4 separate regions of the Homo sapiens genome follow, and all the other regions are linked to region 2. The links come from fine-mapping of genetic effects on gene expression. A gene starts in region 2. Each other region holds a variant in brackets. All regions are shown on one strand. Distances are between the middles of the regions.

Evidence for each region. PIP is the estimated chance that this variant, and not a neighbour inherited with it, causes the effect.
Region 1: its variant is fine-mapped to the expression of TMEM63C in whole blood (TOPMed, PIP above 0.99).
Region 3: its variant is fine-mapped to the expression of TMEM63C in cerebellar hemisphere (GTEx, PIP 0.97).
Region 4: its variant is fine-mapped to the expression of TMEM63C in cerebellum (GTEx, PIP above 0.99).

Annotation. Positions count from the first base shown.
Region 1 is chr14:77,093,898-77,101,449 of GRCh38, reverse strand. CIPC (CLOCK interacting pacemaker) reads right to left here and starts at 3,192. Exons shown (of 4, transcript NM_033426.3): 1 at 3,089-3,192. LOC124903350 (a long non-coding RNA gene) reads left to right here and starts at 3,432. Exons shown (of 2, transcript XR_007064275.1): 1 at 3,432-3,574; 2 at 4,550-4,985. RefSeq lists enhancers at 258-307, 2,422-2,581, 2,721-3,550, 3,912-3,961 and a silencer at 3,582-3,731. The variant C/A (reference allele first, on the strand shown) is at 3,628.
Region 2 is chr14:77,178,042-77,185,593 of GRCh38, reverse strand. TMEM63C (transmembrane protein 63C) reads right to left here and starts at 3,796. Exons shown (of 24, transcript NM_020431.4): 1 at 3,700-3,796. RefSeq lists an enhancer at 3,346-3,475.
Region 3 is chr14:77,236,203-77,243,754 of GRCh38, reverse strand. TMEM63C (transmembrane protein 63C) reads right to left here. Exons shown (of 24, transcript NM_020431.4): 9 at 7,023-7,131; 10 at 4,988-5,061; 11 at 4,263-4,343; 12 at 4,029-4,152; 13 at 3,147-3,280; 14 at 1,286-1,408; 15 at 699-852. Among named protein-coding and RNA genes, the nearest start is that of MIR1260A, 26 kb to the left of the region's middle. The variant A/G (reference allele first, on the strand shown) is at 3,709.
Region 4 is chr14:77,224,821-77,232,372 of GRCh38, reverse strand. TMEM63C (transmembrane protein 63C) reads right to left here. Exons shown (of 24, transcript NM_020431.4): 6 at 6,912-6,949; 7 at 643-785. Among named protein-coding and RNA genes, the nearest start is that of MIR1260A, 38 kb to the left of the region's middle. The variant C/T (reference allele first, on the strand shown) is at 3,702.

The DNA.
Region 1 (7,552 bases), 84 kb after region 2:
GATTAAAAATATGAAAGCCTCTATCTTCAGTAAAGTTCTCTTAAGCAGCAAAAAGCCTTAGCATTGCAGCCAGGGAGGCTCACATGGGATGTAGAACAAAGGGCTACATCCCTCCCCAAACTTTACTCTTTCGGAGGAGTAGCAGCACTGCCCTCCTGGGAGTGGCTGAGGGACCCACTCACACATAGCACCACATAAAGCCTCACTTACTACTGGTGCTCTCAACCCCAAAATTTGCAAGGCAAAGTCTGAAAACCTCGGGAAGTTGCTTGATTTTTTTCCTCTTAGATATTAGTTTACAATAAAGTTACATGCTCACACTGACTAGGAGTTGAAAATGGATTACTAAGCTCTTACCCACTGTGTTCTTTCTGCTTCCTGCTTCCTGGCATAGACTGGAAATCACTCACGCTGCTTTACAAACACATGTACCTTATTCTGCATTAAAAGGGCTAATTTAGGCTCCAAAACTGTCAGAATTTACCCTAATTGGGCCTCTTATGCATGTATATGTAACACATTGTCCAAAAGTTTCCCAGAGAGGATAGTACACACTAAAACTCATAATGGAAAGTGAATCAGGCCGGGTGTGGTGGCTCACACCTATAATCCCAGCACTTTGGGAGGCAGAGGTGGATGGATCACCTGAGGTCAGGAGTTCGAGACCAGCCTGGCCAACATGGTGAAACCCTGTCTCTACTAAAAATACAAAAATTAGCTGGGTGTGGTGGCACACATCTGTAATCCTAGCTACTTGGGAGGGTGAGGCAGGAGAATCCCTTGAACCTGGGATGTGGAGTTGCAGTGAGCCGAGATGTTGCCACTGCCCTCCAGCCTGGGTGAAGAGTGAGACTCCGTCAAAAGAAAAAAAAAAAAGAAGAGAAAAGAAAAGAAAAGAGAGAATCAGAGCCAGGCAAGGTGGCTCACGTCTATAATCCCAGCAGCACTTTGAGGCACAGGCGGGCAGATCACCTGAGGTCAGGAGTTGGAGACCAGCCTGGCCAATATGGTGAAACCCTGTCTCTACTAAAAACACAAAAATTAGCTGGGCTTGGGGATGTGTGCCTGTAATCCCAGCTTCTCAAGAGGCTGAGGCACGAGAATAGCTTGAACCTGGGAGGCAGAGATTGTAGTAAGCCGAAATTGTGCCTCTGCACTCCAGCCTGGGTGACAGAGTGAGACTCCGTCTCAAAAAAAAAAAAAAAAAAAGAAAGAAAGAAAGTGAATCAATAAATATATAAGTTTATATAAGGGGACAAAATTCAAAATCCTAGCAAGTGCTCCAAAGCATTTAGCTCTTACTACTCTTTTTGCACTTCTGACATTAGTCTAATTATTTGTCTCCTCAACCTCGAGTTGTTTTTTTCATCTTTGCAACCTCAGCCCCCAACAATTAACATGAGGCATTCAATAGAGTAATAAATTCCAACAAATCTCTGACCTGCTGAGTCTCTGACAGCTCTAGTAGCTTAGCAGTCACAGAAATACCTGAACAGCTTGAAGGTCAAGATTCTGCATTTCCAAACACCACGGTCACCTTAAGATCTAACCTCCACGTCTGGTCCCCTGCAGGAAACAGATATTTGATCTACCCCTTATTCTAAGTTGAAACGTCAGGGACAAATCCACCATCCAAATTAAGGGTTGATCTAATCCACAAACAATCTTTGTGAAGATTTGTCCTTATGATTAAAAAGGAGATCCAGGGTTACAAGAAAAGGATCTGAAATGCTGCTTTCAGATCTCTCCTTTTATAGACACTTGGCAACATTCCTGGAAGCTCAAGTTCCCTTTAAAATGTGTCACGTGTATAACATGTGTGCCTGGACAGAAGTGTGAGGTAAAAGCCCAACCAGAGGCTTAAATACAATAAAGTGATAAGGTCACAGAAAGAAAACCTTGAGTAATCCCCGTTAGAATTATAAATACATTACTAGCTTTTCTCCGAAGTCATTTTCTTTTGGCCTGCATATTCAGGGATACCATTCTGGGAGAATGTCTGGGTATCTTAACAGTGGAAAAACCCTGTCTACCTAAATGTCTAATATTCATCTTCCCTTCCACATTCATTCCATTTCTCCAACTTGGCTGAAAATTCGTGTCAAAGATCCTGAACCCCAATTCCATACAATTTCCTATGTTTTAGACCAGTTTGGCTCTATTTTCACCTTTCAAAGGGGAGATGAGCTTAGAGAACTTTCTCCGATCCCCTGCTGCAATTAGTTCACAGTAACAGTGCCCACCTACCCATTCGCACCAGCCCACGTTGCATCTGTGCCAGGCAGCATGTGCACCCTCCAGGCATCCACCAGCCTGCCAGCTCAGCAGGGCAAAACTGGGCAGACCCTAGTACTGTGCTGTGACTGGCATACCACCAGCCTTCCAGGGCAAACGCCCAGGCAATGCATACTGCCAGGACTTGAGCAATAACAGGGAGCCTAGCTCCAGCCTGTGACCTGGGCCGGGATCAGAGCTCCCCCGAACCCACCCACTAACCACTTAACTCCTTACTTGGCACTGCCCACCTTCTCCCCAGAAACACTACCCCCGACACCAAGCCTGGCAAGCTGGCCACTCAGGGGAAACAACCAGCAACGAGGGTGACGGCAGGTCTCTGGAAAAGGCAGCACACCTGTGCCCTGGAGCCAGAACAGGGTACCACCCCCGACCTCAAACCGGAAGCCCAGGACCCTCGCCCAGTTACTAGTTCTGGCGCCCACTCACCTGCCCATTGCTTGGCCCTCAGCTCCCAGCCGGGCTGGACTCCAAGCTCTCTCCCCGCCCAGCCGGCTGGCGGTTGCGCCCAGGGCTAGACCAGGGCCCACCTGCCCCTCACACAAGCCTCCTCCCCACACGCAGCCCCCTCCTCACCCGCGATTCCCTCTCCCACGCCCCTCACAGCAAACCAAAGCCCTGCTCCCACCATTTGGCTCTCCGTCCTCCGAAAGTCCCGGTTTGCCCCTCTTGCCTACTCGCTCCTCTTCCTCTCTCCCCTACTTCCACCTCCTTTCCCCACGCTCCTCGCCCAATCCCTCTCCCGCCGTCATCCCTGCTCCCCTCCTCCCGGACCGAGCCCTCCCTTTCTCACCTAGGGCCGGGGTCGCAGCTCCACGACCGGCCTGTGGGTCAGGTGGCGCATGCGCGAGCACGGCCCCGCGGCACCATGACAACCTCGTCGTCGCTGGGTGTCTCGCTATCCCCACAGCCTCCCGCCCATTTCTCCTCCCCACGCCTCCGCGACGGCTTTCGCCAGCCACGTGACCCGACTCGGATGACCCGGCACCATGGAGACCGCACGCTGTTCTCCTAGAAGGGCCCTTGGAAATGCGCCCTTTCCCCGCCCCCGCCGGAAGACCAGGCCGGCGCGGGGCGGGGCCAGCGCTCAGAGGCCTACGCTCTGTCCGCGGCCGGCGGGCGTCTCTATGGTTGGTTCCTCAGGCCTCGCCGCCATTTTGTACGGGGGCCTTGAGCAATGAGCGGCTTGGGCAAGGTTTCCAGGCGGGGTTCAGAGGAGCCGGGGGTGGGGCCGGCTTGGAGTCGATACAGAGAGAGGAGCGACTCTCGCACTGTCTTGGTGCGTGCCGCCGTGCCGCCGTGCCGCCGTTGGGGGTGGGGGCCGGGGCGAGT[C/A]GTGTCCGGCCTGTGCGCGTGCCGGGAGCGACAGTGCCCGGCGTGGGAGAGCGGGCGTGCGGGCGGCCTCAGCCTGGAGTCGCCGTGACAGGGGTGCCAGACCTCCCCGCGTGCTCCTCGCATTTTCTCTACGCCTGTCGCCCTGTTTGTTTTTTGTTCCCGTCCACCCTCGAGACCGTGCTTCACGAGGTCGAGGCGCGATGAGTTATTTTAAGTAGATGATTTCATGACCTTTGATGTTTGACTGACTTTGTCATGTGCTATGGGTTTTATATGGATGCTGTTTCTTGGTGAAGGTTCACGGTGAACACACGTGTGTAACAGCTAAAGAAAAAAAGGGCTTGGGATCAGTTGACGTTCTGATGCCTTGAATCAGTGAAGGTTACTTAGAAAAAGAATTATTTCGCTAGTGAAAAAGAGGACATGGGCGAGTTTAAAGAGTTGACGGGTCGAGGCAGATTCAAGAGCTGAGCTGTCCAGTAAGATGGTCACTAACGACTGGATAAGTTTCTCAGTTGTACTAGCCACATTTCAGGAGCTCAGTGACCTCTTTATTGGACAGTGCAGATTATATATAGCCCATTCCCAGCATCGCAGAAAGTTATATTGGACAGTGCTGATTTAGATAGTGGGGAATTGTTTTATACTGGTCATCCAGGCCTTTGTAAGTGCTGCTAGGTCGTGGTTAATCACGTTAGTCCTCTAGACACAGGTAATTCTAATGTATTACTGGGTATGGGTGTACTTGTTAGTAGTCAGCTTTACCAACAAGTAATATGCCTACACCATGTAAGGCTTTTGTTTTGGGGACAGAGTGAAAGCAATAGTTAACAATTACCAAGTAATTAGGAGCCGGGCCGCTTTATATGCATCCTTTTATGATTCCTTACAAGTTTATGACGCAGGTGGTATTTTTTTCCAGTTGTGTGGCGTTTTTGCCCATTAGGACTCAACTAAAAACCCATGGCTTTGGCCAGGCACAGTGGCTGACGCCTGTAATCCCAGCACTTTGGGAGGCCGAGGCGGGCGGATCACCTGAGGTCAGGAGTTCAAGATCAGCCTGGGCAACACGGTGAAACCCCGTCTCTACTAAAAATACAAAATTAGCTGGGCGTGGTGGCACATGCCTGTAATCCTCGGGAGGCTGAGGCAGGATAATCGCTTGAACCTGGGAGGCGGAGGATGCGGTGAGCCGAGATCGTGCCATTGCACTCCAGCCTGGGCAACAAATCTCCGTCTCACCAAAACAAACAAACGAAAACCGTGGCTTTTATCCATGAAGCTATTAATATATTGCCTTCTTTTGAAGTGGAATAAAACAATCTGCCTTCAGATAACTTAAAATCTGATATGGGAAATAAGACGCGCTGTAATAAATAATATGAAAGAGAATGGGATAAGTACCAGAAGATTGTGAACAAAACCTAATTAATAAAATAAAGGGAGAAAAAAAAACTTTGTTTTTTTTTGGTTGTTGGAGTAGGAAGAGATCAGTAGGTAAATCTTTAAGGATAGCTAAAAGTTGGATTTGCAGTAATGGAAGTGGGTGAGAGTACGACGCACACAAAGCAAAAAAAGAATCAATGAAATAAGCAAAAGCATGAGGTGTGGTCCTATCTTAGTTTTCCGAAGGGGCAAATAAATAAACTATGAGAGGAATGAATTAATGGCATTTGCAGCAACCTGGATGAGATTGGAGACTTATATTCTAAGTGAAGTAACTAAGGAATAGAAACCCAAACATCGTATGTTCTCACTCATAAGTGGGAGTTAAGCTATGAGGATGTAAAGGCATAAGGATGATACAGTGGACTTTGGGGACTCAAGGGGAAAGGGTGGGAAGGGGGTGAGGGATAAAAGACTACAAATTGGGTGCAGTGTATACTGCTCAGGTGATGGGTTCACCAAAATCTCACAAATCACCGCTTAAGAACTTACTCATATAACCAAAATGCCACCTGTTCCCCAAAAACCTATGGAAATAAAAAATTTAAAAAACAGCAGCATGGATACTAGGCTTAATACCTGGGTAACGAAATCATCTGTACAACAAACCGCCATGACACAAGTTTACCTATGTAACGAATCTGCACACGTATCCCTGAACTTAAATAAAAAACAAAACAAAAATAAAATTCAAAAAAAAAAAGAATAAAAGTCTGCCTTCAAATAACTTACAATCTGATATGGGAAATAAGACATGATGTAATAAGCAATATGAAAGAGAATGGGATAACTACCAAAAGATTCTGAACAAAACAATAACATTAAGGGAGAAAAAAAAAACTTTCTTTTTCGGTTGTTGGAGTAGAAAGAGACCAGCAGGTAAAGCTTTAAAGACAGCTTGAAAGTTGGGTTTGCAATAATGGAAGCAGGTGAGGGGATAATGCATACCAAGCAAAAAAGAATCAGTGAAATATGCGAAAGCATGAGGCCCTCTTAGTCCTCCGAAGGGGCAAATAAACCAAACTTCCTTGACTTTACCTACATCTTGAGCAGACAGCCATGCTGTACCAATAACTTAAGCTTCAGACAAGTATTGTAATGGAACCAAATGAATCAAGACTAATGATAGGCATAATTTTTATGATTATTTTATGCTATGATTCTATATAATTAGATATACAGAATAAGCAATTCATGAAGATTGATAGTGAATATTTTTATGTAGCTAAACCACCGTAAACGTTTTTCTTCCTTTCCTATTAATTTACCAAGATTTGTAAATCAGCATCTATTGATAGTTTACTGGTGCCACGAATTCTTTAACCTTCACTCACTTTACTCTCTTTACTCTTGGTTGGAGTAAGGACCCTATGATGGATGGGGTAAGGACCCTGTGATGGATAGTGGGTTCTGAAGCACCTATTCTTCTTGCTGTAGGGTCCTTTCCAATTCAAGTTCTCCCCAGTACCATTGTGGTCTAGGTTCGGTTTCCTACCACCACAACCAGCAGGGGGAGACATGCGCCCTTAAATCCTACATTTAGGGACTTGCGAATGTTTCTTTTTTTTTCCCATCTACTTCTTGAAATTGTAACCTGCCTATCCGTGTGAGGATTTGAGTTTTTAACCCTGCCTAGGATACCATGAAGAGTCAGCCATGGGCCGAGTTTTATTTGAAGATATTTTAAGTGTATTATGTTATACAATTTAAAATATTTATAAACGATTGTTTAATAATTGTTGAATTTAAAATTAAAGTCATTTAAAAATATTTAAAAGTGGGCCAGGCGCAGTGGCTCACACCTGTAATCCCAGCACTTTGGGAGGCCAAGGCGGGCAGATCACTAGGTCAGGAGTTCAAGACCAGCCTGGCCAACGTGGTGAAACCCCGTCTCTACTGAAAATACAAAAATTAGCTGGGCATGGTGGCATGCGCCTTTAATCCCAGCCACTCAGGGGGCTGAGGCAGGAGAATTGCTTGAATCCAGGAGGCGGAGGCTGCAGTGAGCTGAAATTGTGCCACTGCACTCCAGCCTGGGTGACAGAGCGAGACTCCGTCTCAAAAAAAAAAAAAAAAAAAATTTAGAAGTAATTAAAATAGTGTAATAGGAGACGGTGAAAGTCAGTGATCTAGTTTCAAATTCCAGCTCCTATCAATATCATTTTACAAAAGAAGGGTCATTTTGATATCTTTTCCGTATACACAGAAGGGAAGATAGGACATAACCTCACAATTTAAAAATAGAATAATTTCGGGTGTATGAAAAACTTAAAGCTTTTAGTCTTATTTTTCCAGTTTGGCTGAAGACTGGTGAAAACATCACCACAAGGACTGGCAACAGTTCTTGGACTGGTGTTTGGGAACCATTGATTTCATTTTCCTGAACCTCAGTTTGGCCGTCTGTAAAATAGTTATCCTGTAGTTTGAATCTAGCATCTAGCATTATTGGTGCTGATCACTTCATAAGTCTTTAAATAGG
Region 2 (7,552 bases):
CAACACCCAAAACCCAATGGACAGCTGTATCCCAGCGGACTGGCCACAGCTCCATCTTGCCCACCTATCTCTCCAAAGACCTTAGGGTCACTTGCTCTTCTGCTGGGACTCGATGGCCTGAGGCCAGCATGCACCTTGCTGGGCACAACTCTGAGAAGACTCAGCCAGAGTGAGGAGAAGGCTTCTGCCTCCAGGACCTTCCTTGGCCAGGCCACTCAGTAATGGGGAGGGGACAGTTTGGTTTCCTGTTGGAAGCTGATCTTTCTGCCTCTGATCCTCTAAGGACACCAGAGGCCCTGGCTTGGCAGGAATGAAGGTCTACAGGCACAGGGCTGGGCATGACTCACTCACCTCCAGCCCAGCTCTTCCCATCTCATCTTGAGGGTGCTCGTGTCAAATGGCAGAGTGAAAGGCTGGGAAAAGCAGAAGGTGGGAGCCCAGGACACTTGGGTCCTAGTCCTAGCTTTCTAAGCAGGTCTATGCTTCGGTTTCCCTTTGGGGAGCATTACTAATGACTACAAGGAGGCAGGAGGTGACAATGAGGCGCCCCTTCCCCGCCCACTCTGCCTCTGCATGTCTCAGCACCAGCCCCAGGGGTGTTGGCAAGGAATGTGGCAGCTTGAGTACATATCCTGCCCTAGAAACACAGAACATGGAGTCCTGGCCACACGTTGTTCTTCTTAAGAGCCACCCTCAGTTGGGCCTAAGCAATGCAGACAGATCTAGAGCAAGGACACACCATACTTCGTGAGCTGCCCACGTTCTCATCTCAGCTCCTCCTGTAACCCTACCTTGCAGGAGTTGCACCAGCCAACTCATGGGCAAGAATGTGGAGTTCCATTTACACCACCCATGCTGATGTGTAAGCTGTGAAAACCACTGCTCTCCCACGAGAGGAAAGAAGAGTGAGCATTGGGGCCCCACCTCAGGCAAAACAGGGCACTAAAAGCTGCTGATCTCACTGGAAGCTGAGCACTTCCTCTGAGCACTTTCATTACAGCCTTTCCCAGTGTGAGCCTGCCCATGGCCTGAGCACCACGTGGGTTCCTGCAAACTGGACGCTCTGTGCAAACAGCTCCCAGCACTTTACACCCATTATCTTTATGGTTCTTCCACCCGCCTCTTCCCAGGAAGAATCAGAGCAGAGGTCGTGGAATTCGAGAGTTGAGGCAGTGGGGAGGGTACAGGCCTGTAGGAAGCTCCACGGTGCCACTAGACACCTGCATTTTCGGGGGTGAACATCCTGTTAAATATGTTAACTATAATGGGCAGCTGGGGATGGAGGGGATGAAACTCCTCAAGGGCCCAAGCACAACTTGAAGCGGGCTGGGGAGGGCTGACCTGCCTTCCCAGCCTAGAAGGATGCCCTAGGCTGGCCGCAGAGGGAGAGAGCATCCTCTGAAGAAGAAATGACCATGTTTCCCCCATCAAGGCAGGAAACAGATGGCTTCCACCTAGACCAGAGACTCCAGGAATAATACTTCCCATTTGTAATAAACACTTGACAAGTTTCCAAAGCCCTCCCACCCATCTGGAGAAGGTGTTTTCATGCCTAGCTATCAGGTAGAGATGCTGAGGGCAGAGTGCCTGCCGATAGAGGCACTCGGTCCAGCTCTCTGCTCTTTAAGTCTGGTTCTCACCACGGGGCCTCTCTGAGGCCTGACCCTTTCTCTGCTAGCTGGGAGGGACACATACCATGTGGTTTCCCTCCAGTATGGTGGGCCCTCTCCTCTCTGGTGCTATATTGTCACCCCACAAGCAGCTAGTTCTCATCTGGTTTACTGGGAACCCCATCCCTTCCCACAGGTCACCCCAGCAGCTCCTGGTGGTCATCATGCAACCCAAGGCTCCTGTGAAGCCAGCAGGGGCCAGCGTCAGGGGTTCTGTGCTCAGAGGGTGTCTGAAAAGGAGCAATTCATGAGCCAGGCACATGGCAACTCCTTTCACTTGGAGTAAACCGGTGCTGGCCCAAACCCCCGATCCGGAGATGCTGTCAGGGAGATAAATGAAGTCCCTCTACCTGTGGATCCCCACTCCCTGGCTATGCTCACAGCTGCTGGCACTCGGGCAGGAGGGATGCCTGTTTTTGGCTCCGATAGGCCCACAGAAATTGTGTATCCCTGTGGGGGCATGATGGGAAGGTAACCAAGAGACTTCACTTCCCGTCTTCAAGCTGCTTCCTTCCCAAGAAACTAGAAAACATATCTTAAAGGAGGAGAAAATGCTGGTGCTGTTCCCTGTCACCGACCTCCTCCACACCCATCAGGAGGCCCTTGCAGCCTCAGCTTCTCAGCGCTGGGACTGTGGGGTGCGAAGAGAAGACAGGAAGAGGCCCCTCCAGTCTGCCCTTTGGTGGCTGGGGAGTCAGAAGACCTGCATGTAGGTAAGATACCTGGAGAACTCACTCCACCCTCTGTGCCTCAGTTTCCTCATCTGGCTCTGGCTCTAAAATGTCGCTCTCTCCTTGCCTCAGTTTCCCTCCAGGGAAGGTCATCTGTCCCAGGGAGAAGAACAAGGTGAATTCACTTCTAAGGGGAAAGTTCACTTCTAAGGGCAATAGACGGAATGTAGCCCATTTCTCCCAGGGACAGGGGCCGGAGAGAGAACAAGGATAAGGTGATAACAGAGGGTGGTGCTAAGAGATGGACCCTTTCTTGAGGGAAAACACATCTTCCTGGAGCGCTGCAGGCTGTTGAAGGAGAAAGTTCATCTCCTCATTCCCATCAGCACGGGCCTTCCTCTCCTCAAAGCCAACTCTCATTCTTTCCTTGAACCCACAAGAACAGCACACGCTCACACCCCCTCTGCTCACTTAGGTGTTTTTCATGAGCAATTTTCTCCTGTCCCCAGACAATCTAATTGCTGCTTACACCCATGATACCCTGGAGCCCCATGCGGAAGTTGCAACTCCCTGCATTCTCAGGGATGAGGAAATGGGGTGCTGGGGTGGGGGGAGGTCCTGGGGTCTAGAGAGGAAGAAGGGCCCCTGCCCCTCCAGAGGGCATTCGGTGAAGGCAGTGCCTGGGAGGCCAGCTCTGTAGGGCCTGCTCAGTGACCTTGGTCAAGCCACAGCACCCCTGGGCCTCAGTTTCCCCAGGGCCTTCATCCAAACACAACGTTCCTCTCTCAAGGCCAGGGCGAGTAGGGAGGCAAGAGCCTTTCTTTGGAAGCACATGGGGAAAGGGTGGCATTGTTCCCCTGGGGGCCCAGGAGCCCAGCCCGCCAGGCAGCAGCGCAGCAGTGACGTTGTCATAACCCATAACGGCGGAGCAGACTGCCCCCTCCCGTCCCAGCCCAGAGAGTGGGCGGCAGAGCCCCGGGGAATCCCTGGGTGGGGGAGAGGGTAGCCCCGAGCGGTAACTCCCACCTGGCTGTCAGGCAGGAGGCCGGGGACCCCCCAAGCAAACCTCCTACCCACCTCCGTTCCCCCAACCCAGTGAAGACCGGTCTACTAAAGCCACGCCCTCCCGGGTGGGCGGCTCAGGCCACCCTTTCCTGGGTACAAGCTAGAGACAGCCAGCGTGGCAAGGGACTGTGGCGCAGTCTCCCCTACCCCCATCCCTCCCAATGCAAGGTCTCAGAAAGCACAGAAACAAGCAATCCTTCCCCGCCCCCTCCCCGTGCGGGACCTGGATCCGGCGCCCCTTCTTCCCGGCCCGACCAGCCCCGGTCACCGCACCCGCATCGCGTGCTCACCACATTTGCGTCCTCAGCACCGCGGCCCCAGCCCCAGGCTCGGCGCTCAGGCCGCCAGGCTGCAGTGACAGGCTCCACGCTCCCCACCTGGGAGGAGACTGCCAGCGGGTCCTCCTCCTCGCCGGCTGGGCGAAGCCAGCCCCACCTGGCAAGGGACTGTCAGCAAATTCCTCTCTGCATCACTGTGAGAGAGGCATCCCGGCTCCTCCCAAGCAGGGGCCAACCTTGGCCCCGCCCCAAAGCTTCTCTGACCTGCCGGGGAACCCAGGCTGGCAGATCCTACGCGAAGACCCAGGCTCCGCCTCAGAGACCCTGTCGCTACCAGGAACCATCTGCAAATTACTATCTCAAACACACAAGGCTGCCGGTCCCTGGTTCCAGCTTGCTCCAGCTGCCCTGATGCATTGGGCCTTGGCAGCTCCTTTGCCACCTCCCCTCGCCCTCCCTGAGGCATGTCGCCTTTCCCAGTCTCCTTAGTCCCATCAGCCAGAAGCAAGAAAAGCCACTCCACTCCCACAAAGATAGCCCTCTGCCCCGCCCAAGGACCAGGTCCTGGCACCAGCCTAGTGGCTGGTACCCAGCTGCTACCCAGACTCCTTCTACAGCAAAGGAGTGATCTACAATTGGCCACAGCCCCACCAGGGAGGGCCAAGGGAGTGAGCTGGGTCATTTCCGGTTTGCGGTGGGCCACAATCCTGCAGGTATCAGAGTTTCATCAAAGTCCTGCCCACTCTGCTATAGACACTGGTTTTGACCCCGAGGACAGGTGCCAGTGTTTGCAACCCCCAAAGACCAGTGTGCAAAACAAGGGGCAGTAGTAAACAGCCTCTCCCTCCCAGGCAGGGGCCTAGGCACATTTATGTCATCGACATTATCTGGCACTTGCAGTACAATAGCTGATGGGAAAGAAGCCACTGCCCAATGCTCTCTGAAAGTGACTCCCTTTCACCAGTTAGGGCTGTTAACAATATGATAAGAATGCCATAGAGGAAGCCCTGTGAACACAAGGTCATGAGGTGCCAGAGGAGGGGGTCAAAGGCTGGTTATGCTTTCATGGGTTGATTTCCCCATAACCAGCAGCACAGCACCCCCTTCCACACAACCGTATCAGGCTGGCGCACTCTAGTCATCTCCCTCTTCCCCTGACCCCCTGGTTCTCATGACCCAACCACCCCACGAAGACCCAAGGGTGAGCCACATAGACAGACTCTGTCGAAGTCTATCCATTATCCACTCACTCGCCCAGGCTGGAGTGCAGTGGTGTGATCTCGGCTCACTGCAAGCTCCGCCTCCCAGGTTCACGCCATTCTCCTGCCTCAGCCTCCCGAGTAGCTGGGACTACAAGCTCCCGCCACCACGCCCGGATAATTTTTTTTTTTTGTATTTTTTAGTAGAGACGGGGTTTCACCGCGTTAGCCAGAATTGTCTCGATCTCCTGACCTCGTGATTCGCCCGCCTCAGCCTCCCAAAGTGCTGGGATTACAGGCGTGAGCCACCGCGCCGGCCCACTCATTATCTTTTTCATTCACGGGACGGGAAGACTTTTGAACACGTATTCTGCAGTGGCAACAGGGCATCAGGGTCTAGGTTCCAGCCCTTGCTTAGCGGCTATCATGCTGTGCAACCTTGGGTAGCTCACTTGATCTCTCTTTGTTTTTCCCTCTCATCTGTAATTCTGAGAGGGCTGGGCTAGTTGAGGTCTCACACCCCTCTGCTCTGACACCTTTATTCTCTTCTAGGATAAAGGCTGGCGGGTACAAAGACAAATCAGATCAATACAAGAATAGTGCTGGGAACGCTAGCTGCCTGCATTTCAGTCCCAGCTGGGCCACCTAAATGTGGGACTTAACCTCTCTGTGCTTTTTTTTTTTTTTGGCATATGGAAAATGGGGGAAAACAATAATCATAAGCTTAAAGGGTGATTGTGAGGATTAAATGAAATACCATGTACAAAATAAATGCTCTGCAAATATTCATTGTTGTTGCTGTAGTTATGCTATTCACAGTCTGGTGGGACAGCATAAATTCTCAACAAAAGCAGTTCGTCTTTTCCTTCTCTGCTTCATCATCACAGAAGCTGTTGTAAGCCCATATCCAACCCACTCCACCTCCTAGAGGAGAAACCTGATAAGCATCAAGGTCATGCCGTAAAGAGAGGCCAGGTGTGGTGGCTCACGCCTATAATCCTAACAGTTTGGGAGGCTGAGGCGGGCAGATGACTTGAGGTTGGGAGTTCGAGACCAGCCTGGCCAATGTGATGAAACCCAGTCTCAACCAAAAATACAAAAATTAGTCGGGGGTGGTGGCGGGCACCTGCAATCCCAGCTACTTGGGAGGCTGAGGCAGGAGAATCACTTGAACCCAGGAGACGGAGGTTGCAGTGAGCTGAGATCATACCACTGCACTCCAGCTGGGCGACAGAGTGAGACTCCGTCTTGAAAAAAAAAGAAAGATACAGTAAAGGGGGACGGAAGCCAGGTGTGGTAGCTCACACCTGTAATCCCAGCTACCTGGGAGGCTGAGGCAGGAGGACTTCTTGAGGCCAGGAGGTTGAGACAAGCCTGGGCAATATAGAGAGACCTACATCGGAGAGGAGAGGAGGGGAGGGGAGGGCAGGAGAGGGAAGGGGAGGGGAGGGGAGGGGAAGAGAGGAGAGGAGAAAGAAAGAAAAAGAAAGAAAGAAAGAAAGAAAGAAAGAAAGAAAGAAAGAAAGAAAGAAAGAAAGAAAGAAAGAAAAAGAAAGAAAGGAAGGAAGGAAGGAAGGAAAGAAGGAAGGAAGGGGAAGGGAAGGAAGGGAGGGAGGGAGGGAGGGAAGGGAAGGAAGGGAGGAGAACCCATGGAAGGAGGAGAACCCATGGAGATGCCAGGTGGGCTGTGTGGTGGGGAAAGAGATGACCCCAATGTCCCAACCAACCACCTAGATGAGTGTCAGCTTGTAGAAGGTTCTCAGTAAAGGTGTATGGGTATGAATAACTGAGGCTTTCAAAAGAAAGGCCCTTCTGGTCTGTGACACTGAAAACACTTATCATGCTCTCACTTGTGGATTGGGGTGGGAGTGCCTTTGGCCTGAGTTGTCAAATCTGAAAGATTATGCCTGTTATTGTCTTCATGACCGCGTTGTTAACCTCCAATGTCTGGTCTGGGAACATAATCCAGAACAATATAAAAGAAACAAAAGGACTCTGAGTAACCCTTACAGTGAGCTGAGATGGCACCACTGCACTCCAGCCTGGGCGACAGAGCGAGACTCCGTCTCAAAAGAAAAAAAAAATAGACAGAGAGAGAGGTACAGAAAAGGGGGATGGAAGCCAAGTGTGGTGGCTCACACCTGTAATCCCAGCTACTTGGGAGGCTGAGGCAGGAGGATTTCTCGAGGCCAGGAGGTTGAGACCAGCCTGGGCAATATAGAGAGATCTACATCAGAAAGGAGAGGAGAGGAGGGGAGGGGAGGGCAGGGGAGGGAAGAGGAGGGGAGGGGAAGGAAGAGGAGGGGAGGGAAGAGGAGGGGAGGGAAGAGGAGGGGAGGGAAGAGGAGGGGAGGGGAGGTGAGGGAAGAGGAGGGGAGGGGAGGGGCTTTTTCTGCAGATCACCTTGTGTCTTCAATTGGTGCCCACCTTTATTTACTCCACACAAAATTTCAATAGATCCAGTGTGGCAGAGACTGCTAAGAGCCCCTTTTCTTTCCCTCTTCCTTTTTGCAGTAGAGCTCCCAAGATTAAAACCTGGATTTATGGCTCTCCTACTATAGACCACATATCCCAGAACCCCTCGAAGCCAGGTGGAAGTATGAACTAAGTCCTAGCCAGTGAGATATGAGTGGAAGTAATAGGTTTAATTTCTGGGCCACATACTTAAA
Region 3 (7,552 bases), 58 kb before region 2:
GTGTGTTGTTGGAAATGAGGATGGCGAGAATATGGAAGAAGAGACCTTCTAGGCTCCTAGTAACAGTCTTGAGGCTAAAGAATTTGGAAATGGGCTAGGATCCCTCTGACCTGCACCATCAGCAGGAGGCATCCCCTAACTTCAGAGATGGTTCCTCCAGGGCTGAGGGCTCCCAGCCTGGAGTGCAGGTGTCTGGAGATGAGGGAGGTGGAGGCAGATCTTGAGCTCCCACTTCTCTGAGAGGGCTGCGTTGGGGCTTACCTCACTCTTCCTCACCTTTAACCCTACTACACAAACCAGGAGCCTGCTGCCTCGGACAACTTGCAGAGAGCAGAGCCACTCACACTTGCCACACCCTCTGGACCCCAAGCTGGCCTGGGATGACCCCGTTCATGAAGACCTCTGAGCCCATGTTGACAGGACGACACCCCCTCCAACTCACCCCAGGACCTGCCTGTGGACTCCCCACTCTCCCTTCCCACTCTAGCCCTGGTCCCTAAGACTGGCAGTCACCCACCTTCATCCCTTTAGAACAAAGCAAGCCCTACCCCGCCATTTGCACCATGGCCACCTCCACAATGTTCGCACTGTATGGGCTCCACAGCCCCCTCCCAGGGGGCTCCCCCCATCCCATCCTCGCCTGAATTATTCCTTGATCTCCCTGGGGTCCCCAGGCCTGGCCTGAGCAGAGGAGGCACCTGCAGCTTCTCGATGGGGCGGGTGACGTTGTACATGTCGATAGTGTTCATGATGATGGCAGGCGTGGTGAGAAAGAAGAAGAGGAAGAAGAGGAAGGTGTTGATTGCGATAAAGCGGGCCCACCAAAAGAAGCGGCGGACAGACAGGTGTTTCCTGGGGAAGGATGGAAGAAGGAGGCACATTTAGAGACATCAGTTCTTAGAGCCCACGTGCTGTTTGCTGCAGGCCAGCTGTGGACCCAGCCTGCCCTGGTCTAATCCAGCCTCCTGGGCCCAGACTTGCATGCAACAGGACCCTGGACCGTCCCCTGTCACACCATTTATAAAGGATCCAGAGCATAGAGCCAAAAAAAAATGGACCTGAGTTCCCTCTGCAGGAAAAGCCTTTTTGCTAAGGGTTGGATGCCACCCACACTTGTGGGAATGAGTCTGGGCATACACACAGGTTGTGGTGCTTAGGAGAGCATGGAACTTAGTCCCCTTGGAGTCTCTGTTGGGCAATGACATGGGGAGAGAAGGCCCTGTCCTGCTGCCTTCTTCAGTCTCAGAGGAGCTCAGAGGAGAGGGGAGGGATGGAGGAGGCTTACCAAATAATGTCTTTGGGGTGTGGGGCCATAGTGACCCTCCAGTAATATGATTTGACGATGGTGGTCACTGAGGACTGCTGGGGTTGCACACCACACTGGACATACTTGTAATCCTTACGGACACTGCAGAGAGGGGAGAAGAGGAAGAAATGTGGGTCTGGGGGTGGGGGGATGGGCTTAGGAGGGTCTCATGCCAGGAGCTCAGGGCCACTATGGTGGTCCTACAGATGGGGGCTCATCCCCTTCCTGGGGATTCTTGAAGCCTTGGATATGTCTTCAGGACCTTAGAGGTGGACAGTTCCTAAGGCCCAGTATCTGGAGGAAAGGGCATTTGAGGGTGCCTAGACTGCCCAGGCAGGGCAGAGGTGCCACGTGGTTCTGTTTCTGCCTTTCCCCTTAACAGCAGTGACAGCACATAAACACACTCTTTCTTTGAGATTTGATAAGGGAGGTACTACTTTTAGCCTCATCTTAATATCAATAGCTACTAATTATTGAGTTCTTTCTGTGTGCTTGACACTGTGCTAATTGATGACCAGTATCATTTCCATTGCACAGATGACTAAATCGAGGTGCCTAGAGATGTGACCAAAGAGGAGCAGGTGCTGGAGCCCCACCTCTGGCTTGCTAGCTCATATTCTGCTGTAATTAAGCCCCGGATCCTCTCTACCAAATGGCAATGTCTCAAAGAATGAACAATATAACCTTAGGTAGGTGTATTGCTTTAAACAACACAGAAACTGAATAGAAGGCATATCACTTGTCAACCCTCCGGGAGGTGAACAGGACAGATATCAGTAACCAAATTTGCCAGATAAAAAGTTGAGAGTGTAAGGAACTTGCAAAATTGTGTACCATTGTTTGTGAGCAAAATCTAGGTAGTTCTGCTCTTCCTTTGTAGGGTTGGGGTAGGTGGGAACAATGTGCTGTACAGGATCAGCCTCCCCCAGAAAGAAGAGCCCCCCTGCCCCCCACAGTTCTTAAGAGATAAATTCTGGAGCTCCTTTAGGACTTTGGCCCAGTCCTAAGGATCCTTCTGGAACATTCCAGAGTGGACTGAATTCACTCCTTGTCAACGCATGGGCTGCCAGAGGCTGGGGCAGAGAAGAGAGGGGACTGTAGAGCTATGAATTAGGGGAGGCCTGCGGCAGGAGAAGGGCAAACAGAGCTGCTCTATCCTGACGCTCTCTTATGGTGAGGAGGGAGTGATGTGTGTGTCAGCTGGGCGCAGTGGCTCACACCTGTAATCCCAGCACTTTGGGAGACTGAGGTGGGCAGATCACCTGAGGTCAGGAGTTCGAGACCAGCCTGGCCAACATGGTGAAACCCCGTCTCTACTAAAAATACAAACATTAGCCGGGCATGGTGGCAGGCACCTGTAATCCCAGCTACTTGGGAGGCTGAGGCAGGAGAATCGCTTGAACCTGGGAGGCAGAGGTCGTAGTGAGCTGAGATTGTGCCATTGCACTCCAGCCTGGGTGACAGAGCGAGACTCTCTCAAAAAAAGAAAAAAAAAAAAAAAGAAAAAAAAAAAAAAAGAAAAAGGGAAAAGGGATGTCATTCTTGTCAAGGGCAGAAGAGGGACCATGAGGTCAAAGGCTTCTCTGACCACCTCTGTGCTAAAGCAAGGACAGGGAGTGAGGAGCCCCGGCCTGGGCACCCCTTGAGAGCAGCTGGGCCCCAGCAGCTGGGGGAAGCAGGTATGGCCATCTCATCCACTGGAGAGCCAGATGGCAGCTGCCTGTGACGAGCATGGAGGGCCCAGGGGAGGCAGAAGGGGAAACTGGAGGTGGAGAGGGAGGAGAGTGCCGAGAAGCAGGAGTATGCTTGGGGCTGGGTGGGGCGCCTGCCTGGTGCTCACCGCTTGGCCATCCTGGAGTCCTGGAAGGTGACAAAGATCAGGTCCAGCCGCTTGAGCGGCACGCGGTTGAGCTCGGCGTTGAACTCGTCCGTTAGCTGCTCCTCTAGCTCGCTGTAATACTGCTCTGCATCCACCTGGGGTGGCAGGCAGCCTTCAGGGCTGGGGCCAGAGCCCCAGGAAGGCCTCCCTGGTCACGAGGTTCCTCCCCACTCAAGCCTCCCTGGATTGTGGTGGCCTTGAAGCACCTCAAGGAGCCCAGGACCCTGGCTGGCCTCCAAAGTCCCACCTCTAGAACAAGAAGAGGCGATGACTGCCATTCACCCCTGCCCTTAGATCTGGGGAAAGTGAGGCATAGCTAGGGGTACCCGGGGGCTTTCAGGCTTGGGGTGGACCCCAGAGAGGTGAGAGAATGTGTTTGCCGCATTTCCACGAGAGAGGGTGAATCTCTGGGCTGGCAGAAGTTCGGCATGGTCCTGAAGCAGGTGTCTGAGTCTCGACGCCCTCTTTGAGCCACAGTGGTCAGGTGATAAGACAAGCTGTTGCCTTCAAATGTTTCTGTCCT[A/G]TCTCTTTGGGAGCCTGAGGCCTGGCAGCCTCGTGTAGCCTGCTGTGTTTTCTCTGGTCCTTCTCTCTCATTCTCCCATCCAAGACCAGAAAGGAGACAGCAGCAAGCTTCCCTGGATTGTTCTGAAGGTGGCCTCCAGAAAGGCTCCCATCTCAACAGGGAGGCAGGACATGGTGGATGGGGAGGAAGGAGCTGGGTGGGGAGCACTAGAGCAGACCTGAGTGAGGCCTGGGGCCCAACAGTGCGGGCAAAGGCACAGAGCCTAGAGCCCCAGGACCCCACCGCTCCCTTGCTGTGCTCCCAACGCTCAAGCCAGTTACCTCCTTGAAGCAGGTCCAGCACTTGCAGAAGCACAGGCGGGCACAGGGGTGGATCCTGATCATCACCTTCCCAGTCTTCTTGGCCTTGGCTGTATAGAAAAGCCGGCCCCGCATGGCATGGCGCCTGCCAGCGGTGGGCAACAGGAGAAGGACCTGCAGGTCAGGGGCCAGCAGAGCCCCATCCTCCCCTTTTACCCCCACCCCGGGCCCCAAAAGGCCCCGCTGCAGCCTCACCTCTGATCGTCCAAGTCGATCAGGTTCCTGACGTCGTAGCAGAAGTGGACTCTTGTCACGACACTGCCTGGATAGGCCTCGCTGCAGCCACAAACATGGGTGCTGAGTCGGCCTGTGGGGTTGGGGATGTGCTGCCCCTACCCCCTGCCCAGCATGTCGGCCCTGAGGGCTGGGTGGCTCAGCTGCCTGGTGTTCCTGGATGGGATACTCCATCTCTGCTCCTAAAGCTGAACCTCAGGGTTTGAACCTTGGCAATCTGAGAGCTGCCAAATCCTTCCTACACAACTCAGAACAGGGCAAAAGGGCGGAGCTCCACCCACTGGGGAACCCAGGAGACAGCTGTTCACGAAGAGATAATTAGCTCAGTGAACAGTGTCCTTGGGGCTGGGAACTTGGGGTCACAAAGGATGTCTCCAGATGATCTTCTCTAAATAGCTGTGATCCAAGGTTCCCTGTGCTCAGTAGTTGAAGCAACAGGAGAAAGAAAAATTCCCATCACCCATATCACAGCCATGCCATGCAGGAAGTCCCTGACTTCAGACACCCTGCTCCAGCTCCAGCGGCCCTCCCCATTCTAAAAAGCTGATCCTGAGCTGAGTCCAGGGAGAGCCACCCCGGGGTGTCCCAGTCCCACCATCCTGCACCAACTCACTACCCACTTGAGGACCCAGGCGGGGTTATGGGGAGGAAGCAATCCACGCCTTGGCCTACCCCAACCCACTTACTGAAAATGCTTAATGATGAGTTCTGGGTCTTCAATGTCCTTGGGCACATAGGTGATCATTAGTGTCCTTGTGACCTGGGTGGGAAAAATAAAAATGGAGAAAGAAGACTGTGCTTGCATAGGAATTCCAGACACCTCAGTCTTTTGGTGGCTCAGAGCAGGCCTTCTGCTCACAGCAGGCTGCTGATGCCAGTGCCTCCTTGCTGAGAGAGCCAAGAAAGCCAGAGCCAAGCTGGGACACTGTGGGCCAAGGAAGTGCCAGCTGCCTTAGCCCACAGCGTCCCAGCTGAGCCAGGCAGCTCTGAGGTTGGTCAACTGTGCTTCCGTTCTCCTCTGTGCCCAGCTGTGGGTGCCCTGCTCCGGACTGCTGTGGTGAAGGGAGGAAGGACTGGAAAGCTGCCATCAGGCTGGGGTGGAGGATCAGAGCTCCATGATTGGAAAGAGCTGCCAGAGCGACCCCACAGTGATTTCTGCTCTCCCTGTAGCTTCCACTGTTCCAGCGTAAAGCCTCACATCTCTAGGGAAATCCCTCACGTGAGACTGGGCCGGGGAGTTGGGAAGTAAACAAGACTCTGGGGAGAGGGTAGGGAAGCTTCCCTAAACTTCACACTTTATTCTGTGAATGGGAAATATCTTCCTGGGTCGTCACCTTTAAGATGACAGTCTGGTAATTGTGCTGCAAGAATCAGGGGTCTTGAAAGAGGCTTCTGGTGACAAGAAGGAAAGCTGAAGTAGCAGACACCAGACTGGTCAAGGGTGACCAAGCCTCCATGCCTGGCAGGCTGAAGCATTTGGGTTCACTTTTCAGGGAATGTGGATTTGCACTCTGGGGTGGGTTCAAGTGAATCAGTCCTTTTGAATGGACGGCCTGGAAGGAGCTGATTCCACACCACTGAACCTTTGAAAGGCTGAGGACGGGAACTAAGGATGCTCCTCACTCTTGCCCATCCCCAGCAGAGCATGGGTGCTGGTCCAGATGGGTGGCACTGCTGGTGCCTGCCCGTGGCCCCCCGTCAGTCATCTCTGCACACCAACACCTGCAGCATGCTTCAAATACTGCGACTGCTCTTTCCCGGCCTTGGGGCATGTTCAGCTTTTGTGCAGGGCCAAGTAGGGGAGGAGTTAAAGCCCCCAAGCGCAACCCTCAATGAACGGTGGACAGGGAGCTGGTGGAAAATACCCACGATTGCTCACCTCCAGGAAAATTCTGGGGCATGTGCTCTACACCAGCTCCCAGAGTTCCCTGGTCATGAAGCTCCACTTGCCCACAGGGGTAAGTTGCCCCTCCATGCTCCCTTTTTTTGGTTGCCTTTGCATCCTCACTCCCTTACTGGCCTTTCCTGGGATCACCTCCCATAAACAAGCGCTACTCATTCCAAGTCTCAGGGTCTGCTTGGATGGGGTCACCCAAACTGAGACGGTGGGGATACACGGGGGTCTCTGATCTCCGAGAGACTGCAGAAGGGCGAGGCACGGGCCTAGCAGGGGTGGGCAGGGCCAGGTACACTAAGTAGCAGCAGCTCAGCAGGGCCCAGACCACTTAGCATGGAGGCCCCCGCTGGTCCACTGGGCCTTGTTAATCCTTTAGTTTTCAGATGGTGGGAAGTCCAAGAGTCCCTGGGGAGGGGCGGGGCAGCAGAGGGGCAGGGATAGGAGGTACCTGGGCAGCAGCTATTTACCAACCAGTCTGAAAGTTTCATTAGGGGTGAGAGGATGGAGGGTGAGAGGGTGAGAGGGTGGAGGAGCGTGAGAGGGTGGAGCAGCGTGGAGGAGGGTGAGAGGGTGGAGGAGCGTGAGAGGGTGGAGCAGCGTGGAGGAGGGTGAGAGGGTGGAGAAGGGTGAGAGGTGGGGGCCAGGTGATTGTTACTAGGACTGAAGGGAGGAAGCTTGGCCCCTGCTCAGGTGAAACCGCCCCCTCCCATCTATCACAGTCTCCCTGGACCCTCTGAGGGCTTCTCTGAGGGTTGGAAGTGGTCAGCCCAGTGGGGAGGGACCCCAGCTTCCCACAGTGGGAAGCAGCTTTGTAGGCTACTTACCTTTTGGCTATTCCTGGGTGCAAACCCCAGGCAGTGATGAGCCATGAACATGAAGTTGGTGATGAAGTAGAAGAAGGACAGCAGGCTATGCAGCCACAGGAGCTTGCTCCTGCAGGGAGGGAGGCAGCAGCAGTGAGGTCAGCCTGTGAGCTCCCCAGAGCCCACTGCACAGAGACCCCTGGGCCTCCTCCTACCCTCAGTCTCCTGGGGCCCCCCAGCCCATCACAGTCTCCTCAGACCCCCACAACCATCCAAGTCTCCCCAGACCCCAACCCATTACAGTATCCCCCACCCCCACCCATCACAGTCTCCCTAGACTCCCCCTACCATCACAGTCTCCCCATACCCCCCCACCAGTCTGCCCATACCCCCCACCCACCACAGTCTGCCCATACCCCCACCCATCACAGTCTCCCCATACCCCCACCCATCACAGTCTCCCTATACCCCCCACCCACCAGTCTCCCCATACCCCCCACCCACCACAGTCTCCCCATACCCCCACCCATCACAGTCTCCCCATACCCCCA
Region 4 (7,552 bases), 47 kb before region 2:
GAGGTTGCAGTGAGCTGAGATCGCGCCATTGCACTCCAGCCTGGGCAACAATAGCAAAACTCTGTCTCAATAAATTAAATAAATAAATAAATAAAATATAAAATAAAATAACATATTAGCTAGGCAAAGGTATTTTCTGGGGAGCAGGTGTGGGTAAACATTGTGGAGCCATGATTTTTCTGTTTTAGAAGCCAAGGTCTCATCCACAATGCTGTTCCCTCCAAAGGGCTCACCCTGTTCCAATGAGTGGGAGTAGAGGTCCTACAAGACAAATTCTGCACCTATGGTGTTATGTCCAACAGAGTGGGTTCAGGGATCTTTGCAGTGGGTCACATGTCACAAAAGGGTCTCCAGGAACGCCCAGCCAGAGTGGGGCCATGAATGAACACTCAGTTCCAAACTGAATTAATACTATGTGCCTGCTGTGTGTCAGGCTCTGGGCCAAACCTGTGACAAAGGAGGAATCGTCTCCAGTCTCCACATGAGAGAAGCGAAGCATGGTTTGTTCAAGTTCACACAACAACAAACTCCCAGAGGCAGGATTAAAATAGATGTCTAGACCCTCAACCCCAGCCCTGACTGGCTTGCCTGGCTGCCTCTCAGGTCCAGCTGCTGCCCCAGGGCCAGCTGAGCTTTGCCTACCCAGAACAGATCCAGTATAGTTGATGGGCAAAATGATGCCCAGGGAGGGGATACAGATGATGAGCACAAAGATGATGAGGTGGTACTGGAACACGATGTAGATGCGCGCGTCGTCCCCACACTTGTTAATCAGATCCTCGTCCCTGGAAGAGACACACAGACAAGGACGTGCCTCAGGAGCCAGCGTGGCCACCACTTGTTGCGGGGAGGTAGAGGGAAGGGCAGAAAATGATCACCCCCTCCCCAAGTTTTTTTTTTTTTTTACTATCTCTATATCTCATATATAAGGCAACTTCGAAATTGCCCTATATCTCAAAGCCTCGGTTATCCTTGAAGTATACTTTAACTGAATTTCACAGACATATCAAAGATAGGGGCTCTGTTACAGATACACACTCAGGAATCCAGAAACACTCTTGAAATAGAGCATGCATTCATCCTTTTATTACTTCTTCAAACATTTTGAGTGGTTGCTATGGTGCAGGCACCAGATAAAGCACTTGTGGTACTGAGAGGCACTCTTAGGAAAAAAGGAACACCTGAAACCCATGACGAGATAATGAGCTATCACTCCACACTGCCAGATTTGCCAAAGTTGGAAAGTTGGACAACACTAAGTGCTGGTGAGAGTGTGGGGCGCTGGGAGTTCTCCTGCTCTCATGGGTGTATATGCTGGCCCAGTTACACTGGAGAACAGTTGGTATTATCTACTGAAATGGAATACATGCACATTCTATGACCCAGCAATTCACTCCTAGGTTTATACCCAACAGAAATGCATGACATGTGTACCTAGAGACATGTATAAAAATTTCACAGATGCATTACTTGTAACGTCCTCAAACTGGAAACAACTTACATGTCTATCAAGGTGAAATGGACACAAGAACTGTGATATATAAATCATGAAATACTAGACAGCAGTGGTCCCTAACCTTTTTGGCACCAGGGACCAGTTTTGTGGAAGACAATTTTTTCCATGGACCTGGGTGTGGGGTGGTGGGGGGGCAGATAATTTTGGGATGAAACTGTTCTACCTCAGATCATCAGGCATTAGTTAGAGTCTCATAAGGAGCAGGCAGCCTAGATCCCTCATATGTGCAGTTCACAATAGGATTTGTGCTCCTATGAGAAGCTCATGCCGCCGCTGATCTGACAGGAGGCAGAGCTCAGGTGTAATGCTCGCTCACCTCCTGCTGCGGGGCCAGGTTCCTAACAGGTATCGATCTGTGGCCTGGAGGTTGGGGACCCCTGTTACACAGCAATAAAAATGAATGACCCATAGCTGAACCTCACAAACACAATGCTGAGTAAAAGTTACCAGGCACAAACAACACATACTGTGTGGTTTCAAACATAAAGTTCAGCTATAGGCAATACTGAGCTATAGAGTTAGAATGGGATGGGGATGAAGGTTGGGGGACAGGAAGAGAGCTGCTGGGTATTGGCGATGTTCTAGTTGTGGATCAGGATGATGGTGGCACAGCCTTAGCTTTGTGATGACTGAGCTGTACATTTTTTTTTTTTTTGAGACAGAGTCTTGCTCTGTTGCCCAGGCTGGAGGGCAGTGGCACGATCTTGGCTCACTGCAACCTCCTCCTCCCGGGTTCAAGTGATTCTCCTGCCTCAGCCTCCCGAGCAGCTGGGACTATAGGTGTGCGCCACCACGCCCAGCTAATTTTTTGTATTTTTTAGTAGAGACGGGGTTTCACCATGTTGACCAGGATGATCTTGATCTCTTGAGCTCAGGGGATCCGCCTGCCTCGGCCTCCCAAAGTGCTTGGATTACAGGCGTGAGCCACCATGCCGGGCCGAGCTGTACATTTTTTGGTGTGCACTTTTCCATGTGCATGCTATACTTCAATTTAAACAATTTAAAAGCAACAAGTGCTCATAGAAACTTTGGAAAATATGAAAAAGAAGTAAATAATTCATCTACAATCTCATTGAACCTAAGACAATGATTAAAAAGCATTTGTGGCTGGGCATGGTGGATTGCGCCTGTAATCCCGGTACTTTGGGAGGCAGAGACAGGTGGATTGCTTGAGCCCAGCAGTTCGAGACCAGCCTGGGCAACATGGTGAAACCCCATCTCTACTATATATATATATATATATTAGCTGGGTGTGGTAGCATGTGCCTGTAGTCCCAGCTACTCTGGAGGCTGAGGTAGGAGGATCGCTTGAGCCTGGGAGGTTGAGGCTACAGTGAGCCAATATCATGCCACTGCACTCCAGCCTGGGTGACCTGGGGAACAGAGCAAGACCCTGTCTCAAAATAATAATAATGATAATAATAAGCATTTGGACTTAATTTTTGTTTGTTTGTTTGTTTTGAGACAGAGTCTCACTCTATAGCTCCGGCTGGAGTGCGTGACATGATCTTGGCTCACTGCAACCTCTGTCTCCCAGATTCAAGTGATTCTCCTGCCTCAGCCTCCCAAATAGCTGGGATTACAGGTGTGTACTCAGCCAAATTTTTGTATTTTTAGTAGAGACGGAGTTTCACCATGTTGGCCAGGTTGGTCTCAAACTCCTGATCTCAAATGATCTGCCCGCTTTGGCCTCCCAAAGTGCTGGGATTACAGGTGTGAGCCACCATGCCCAACCTCCTTTATTTTCTTGTTGTGTTCATTTTACTTGGTGATTATAGTTATAAAAAGCATTTGATGCACTGCTCTTTTGCTTGGCATTTAATCTCAAGCATTTTCCGATGGTTTTACGTAATGGTGACAGTGGCCTCTGTTGATGGAGCACTGGTTCATGCTCAGCACCATGCAGGCCTCCCCACTCCACTGGTGGACACACCATGGTTTACCCACCCCTGCCCCCTTGTCAGGATTGTAGGTTGTATGCAAAACTAGCATCCAGTCTGGGATTCAGATTTATTTTTAAGGCCGGGTGCAGTGGCTTATGCCTGTAATCCCAGCACTTTGGGGGGCCAAGATGGGCAGATCACTTGAGATCAGGAGTTCAAGACCAGCCTGGCCAACGTGGTGAAGCCCTGTCTCTACTAAAAATATAAAAATTAGCCAGGCATGGTGGCACGTGCCTGTAATC[C/T]CAGCTACTTGGGAGGCTGAGGCAGGAAAATTGTTTGAACGTGGGAGGCGGAGGTTGCAGTGAGCTGAGATCGTACCACTGCCCTCCAGCCTGGGCGACAGAGTGAGACTCCGTCTTAAAAAAAAAAAAAAGATTTATTTTTAAACAATACTACAAAAGGCACACCTTCAAGGTTTTCAATGTTCTCATTTGAGGAATTATTTAGAGCTCTTGATTTTTTAACTTTGAGCGGCTAAACGTTTCCCTCCCTGGACTTGAGAATGAAATGCCAGAAGTGGAATGGATGAGAACTTCTGGAGAGCGGGGGAAGGTCCTCTTGCACTGCCTGAGGCGGGGTGAGGTCCAGGAGCCTCCAATCAGGTGGAGAGAGCAGAGGGCTGGACAGGACTGGATGGCACTGAGAGCACTAGAATTCTCTTCCTGGGCCAGGAATTCCTGCCTCCACCACTAGGCCTGTTTCCTTTCTCCATCTTTCTTGTAAGTGCCCCACCCTGACCTTCCAGCCAATCGCCCTTCTTCCTACTCACAATTAATTCTCTGTCTCTGCTCTCATTGCTTCCCTTCCTTCCACCTCTTTCTGAAGACGTGCTGGATCCATTGTTCTGCTCTCTCATCTTCGGCATCCTCCTCTCTCTGCATGCACCTGCGTCCACCCACACCTCTTCCCTGTAAACTACAACCAGGCTCAAGTGCTTGTTGGTTCCTCTGTAATAAAACAGCTCCTCAAGGATCCACTCTCTGATCTGTTCCCTGACCTGTTTTCCCTCCTCCTTCCAGTAGCTTCACTTCCCTCCTTCCATGCACCTCTGGAAAAAGGTGACCTTCCTTCTCTGCCTCTGTGTCTTGGACATCCTATCCTCGGCCTGCCCTCCCAACAGAGACCCAACTCACCAAAGTCAATGTCCTTTCCTCAACCCCCATTCTACTCCACCTCTGTAGCACTAGAGGTTTCTGGGTCGCCCCACCCTAGAGGGGAGCCTTGTCCTGGCCTGGCTTCACTGAGTCCAGCCCAGAGGATGCCTCTTCCTCCCGCCTCGATGAGGCACTCCCTTGGGCCGCTTCTGGTCTTACATCCTTGGATGACCCATCTGCTCCCATGACTTCAACTACAGCCTCCATGCACCATCTCCCAAGTTGAAATCTCTAACTCTGACCTTTCTCCTAGGCTTCAATCTTGTTTTTTCAACAGCTCCTTTGTCAGCTTGCATACTTGCCCTGACTACATCTCATCATTTTGTGTTTCCTCTCCCACCTAATGGCATTACTACCCTCCCCAGAAACCAGACCTCAATTTCTCCCTCTTTCTTAACTAGGCCACAACCTACTGACTGTAGCCTTATGATCTCCCTCCCATCTTCCCCTCCCATTGTTTCTCTAGTCACTGCCCCGGTTCAGGTCACTAGCACCTCCCACCTCGACCATTGGAATAGCCTCCTTAACTGCTCACCTTGACTTTGGACTTTCTCTAATGCCATTCACTCTCCATACTTCTGCCTACACACATATATTGTTCTGAGTTTCCAGCTTAAAAATACTAATTGGCTCTCTACTGTCTCTAGATGAAAGCCCAAGATTCTCAGTATGCCAGCCAAGGTCCCAGCTGAGGCCCAGTGCGGTGGCTCATGCCTGTAATCCCAGCACTTTAAGAGACTGAGGCAGGTGGATCACCTCAGGTCAGGAGTTTGAGGCCAGCCTGGCCAACATGGTGAAACCCCGTCTCTACTAAAAATACAAAAATTAGCTGGACATGGTGGCACGTGCCTCTAATCCCAGCTACTCGGGAGGCTGAGGCAGGAGAATTGCTTGAACCCAGGAGGCGGAGGTTGCAGTGAGCTGAGATTGTGCCACTGCACATCACCCTGGTGACAGAGAGATATTCTGTCTCAAAAAAAAAAAAAAAAAAATCCCAACTGATCCTTCCAGCCCAATCTTTTACCCTCCCCCGCCACACTTACCATGAAACCTTGCTTCTAGTCACACCAGATTTACCATGTCTGTGCACACCCTACTCATCTCTGCAACAAACTGGCTCACACGGTCCTTTACTTCTGATGTGCCCTCCACATCCCACATCGCGCCTGTCGAAACTCTTCCTGTCCTCCAATGCCCAGCTCAAAACTATACTTTTCCAGTTGGAATTAATTTCTCTCTTCCCCACATGCCGTCTGCACAGCAATTATAACCCTCCCATTCTGAATGCTACGAAGGGAGTCTTGTTCACCTTTGTTTCTCCAACCAGACCGCATGGGTTTGTGCACGGGGACGCTACTTGACTTATTGCTGCTCAGTAAACGCATTAAGCTGTCTTCTATGACACTGCTCTCAAGAGCTGCTGGATGCACGGTGCAATGCCCTGCCTTCCTGCTTTCCCAGATGCTGGGTCCCTGACAGAGGGGCCTCTGTGATAGGAGTCTTTGGGTAGGGGTGGGGTGGAGGGGTTTAAAGGATGGGCAGGACAGGACAGGTGGAGCACACTGAGGGAGAGCCCATGAGTGTGTGGGGTCTGAGGTGGAGGCAGAGCTGTGTGCACACGTGTACGTGTGTGTGCGTGTATGTATGAGTGTGCATGTGTGTATGCCTACGCAGTGGGAACATAGAGTTCCGGTAAGTGTCTGCTCTGCTGAAGCGTCTGGCTGGTGTTGGGGAATCAGGAGAAAACACGTAACTTGAGGTCAGCTTGCAGGAGAAAACAGGTGACTTGGGGGCTGCTTGCTTGCAAAGTGGGGTCTGGCATTCAAGAAACCCACAAGGTGAGGTGGGCAAGGGCTGCCCCTCTGCTCTCCAGGCACTGAGGCCGAGCGAGGCCTGCCCTTCTGCCCGATGTTTGCTTGGGCAGAAGGGCGAACACATGATATGTTGAATGATGTTCACAGAAATCAAGCAGATAGCACAAAGGAAGGGTTTCTTTTTCCTGGTGTGGAGTTCACAGAAGCATTTCTATAAGCACGCGAGTAATGATTCAGCTATTAAAAGTGGTCCTTCCCTAAGGACTGAGGCAGAGATAACAGGGGCAGTGGGCTGTGCCCAGTTCTCACGTCACCAACTGTACCCCAGGAAAGCATCCTTCACTGGTAATGGGCCGAGGTGGCGGGGAGGATACGGAGCTCAGGCCCTGTCTTCCCAGGCTGGGGGCTGCTAACTTTTCCAGGAGCCTCCACCCCCCACCCCCAAGGCAACACGGTCACAAGCTCACAGAGCCCGGGCACTTACTTCATTGTTATGCTGTTGAAGAACCAGGAACAGAATCCCTGCGGGGAAAGGAGAGAAACTGTGAGAAAACCCAGGTCCTGGCCTGCCCTGCCCAGCTCTGGGAACCCAGGCGGCCAGGTCATCTGAGGCAGCCGCGGCAGCGTCCGGGGCCTCCTTCCTGGGAAAAAGAGTCTGAAGGCTCAGCTGGGAACCAGTGGTGACTGTGGAGGGAGATGCTTCCCTGGAAATGAGTGGACATCTCTGCCCTCCTGTTATAGGAAATGGGGTTTAGAAGGTGACCCTTGAACTGGAGGGGGAGAAGTGACTGCTTCTGGGGTGAACGTCTGTTGCTCTCTGTCTGTCCTTCATGCTTCCTTCTGGAAATGTCCTTCACTGGATGCGTGTGGTCCAGTGGGCTCCTACTCTTACTCTGTCCGAGTGGGAGTTTGCCTCCAGTGATTGACTGGCCAATGGGAACTTTACCCAAGTGGGGCCAATTAAAATTTCCTTAAGGAAGCCAGGCATGGTGGCTCACACTTGTCATCTCAGCAGCTCAAGAGGCTGAGGCAGATGGATCACTTGAGCCCAGGAGTTTGAGTCCAGCCTGGGCAACACAGCAAGACCCCACTTATTAAAATTAAAAAAAAAAATCCCTTAAGGGG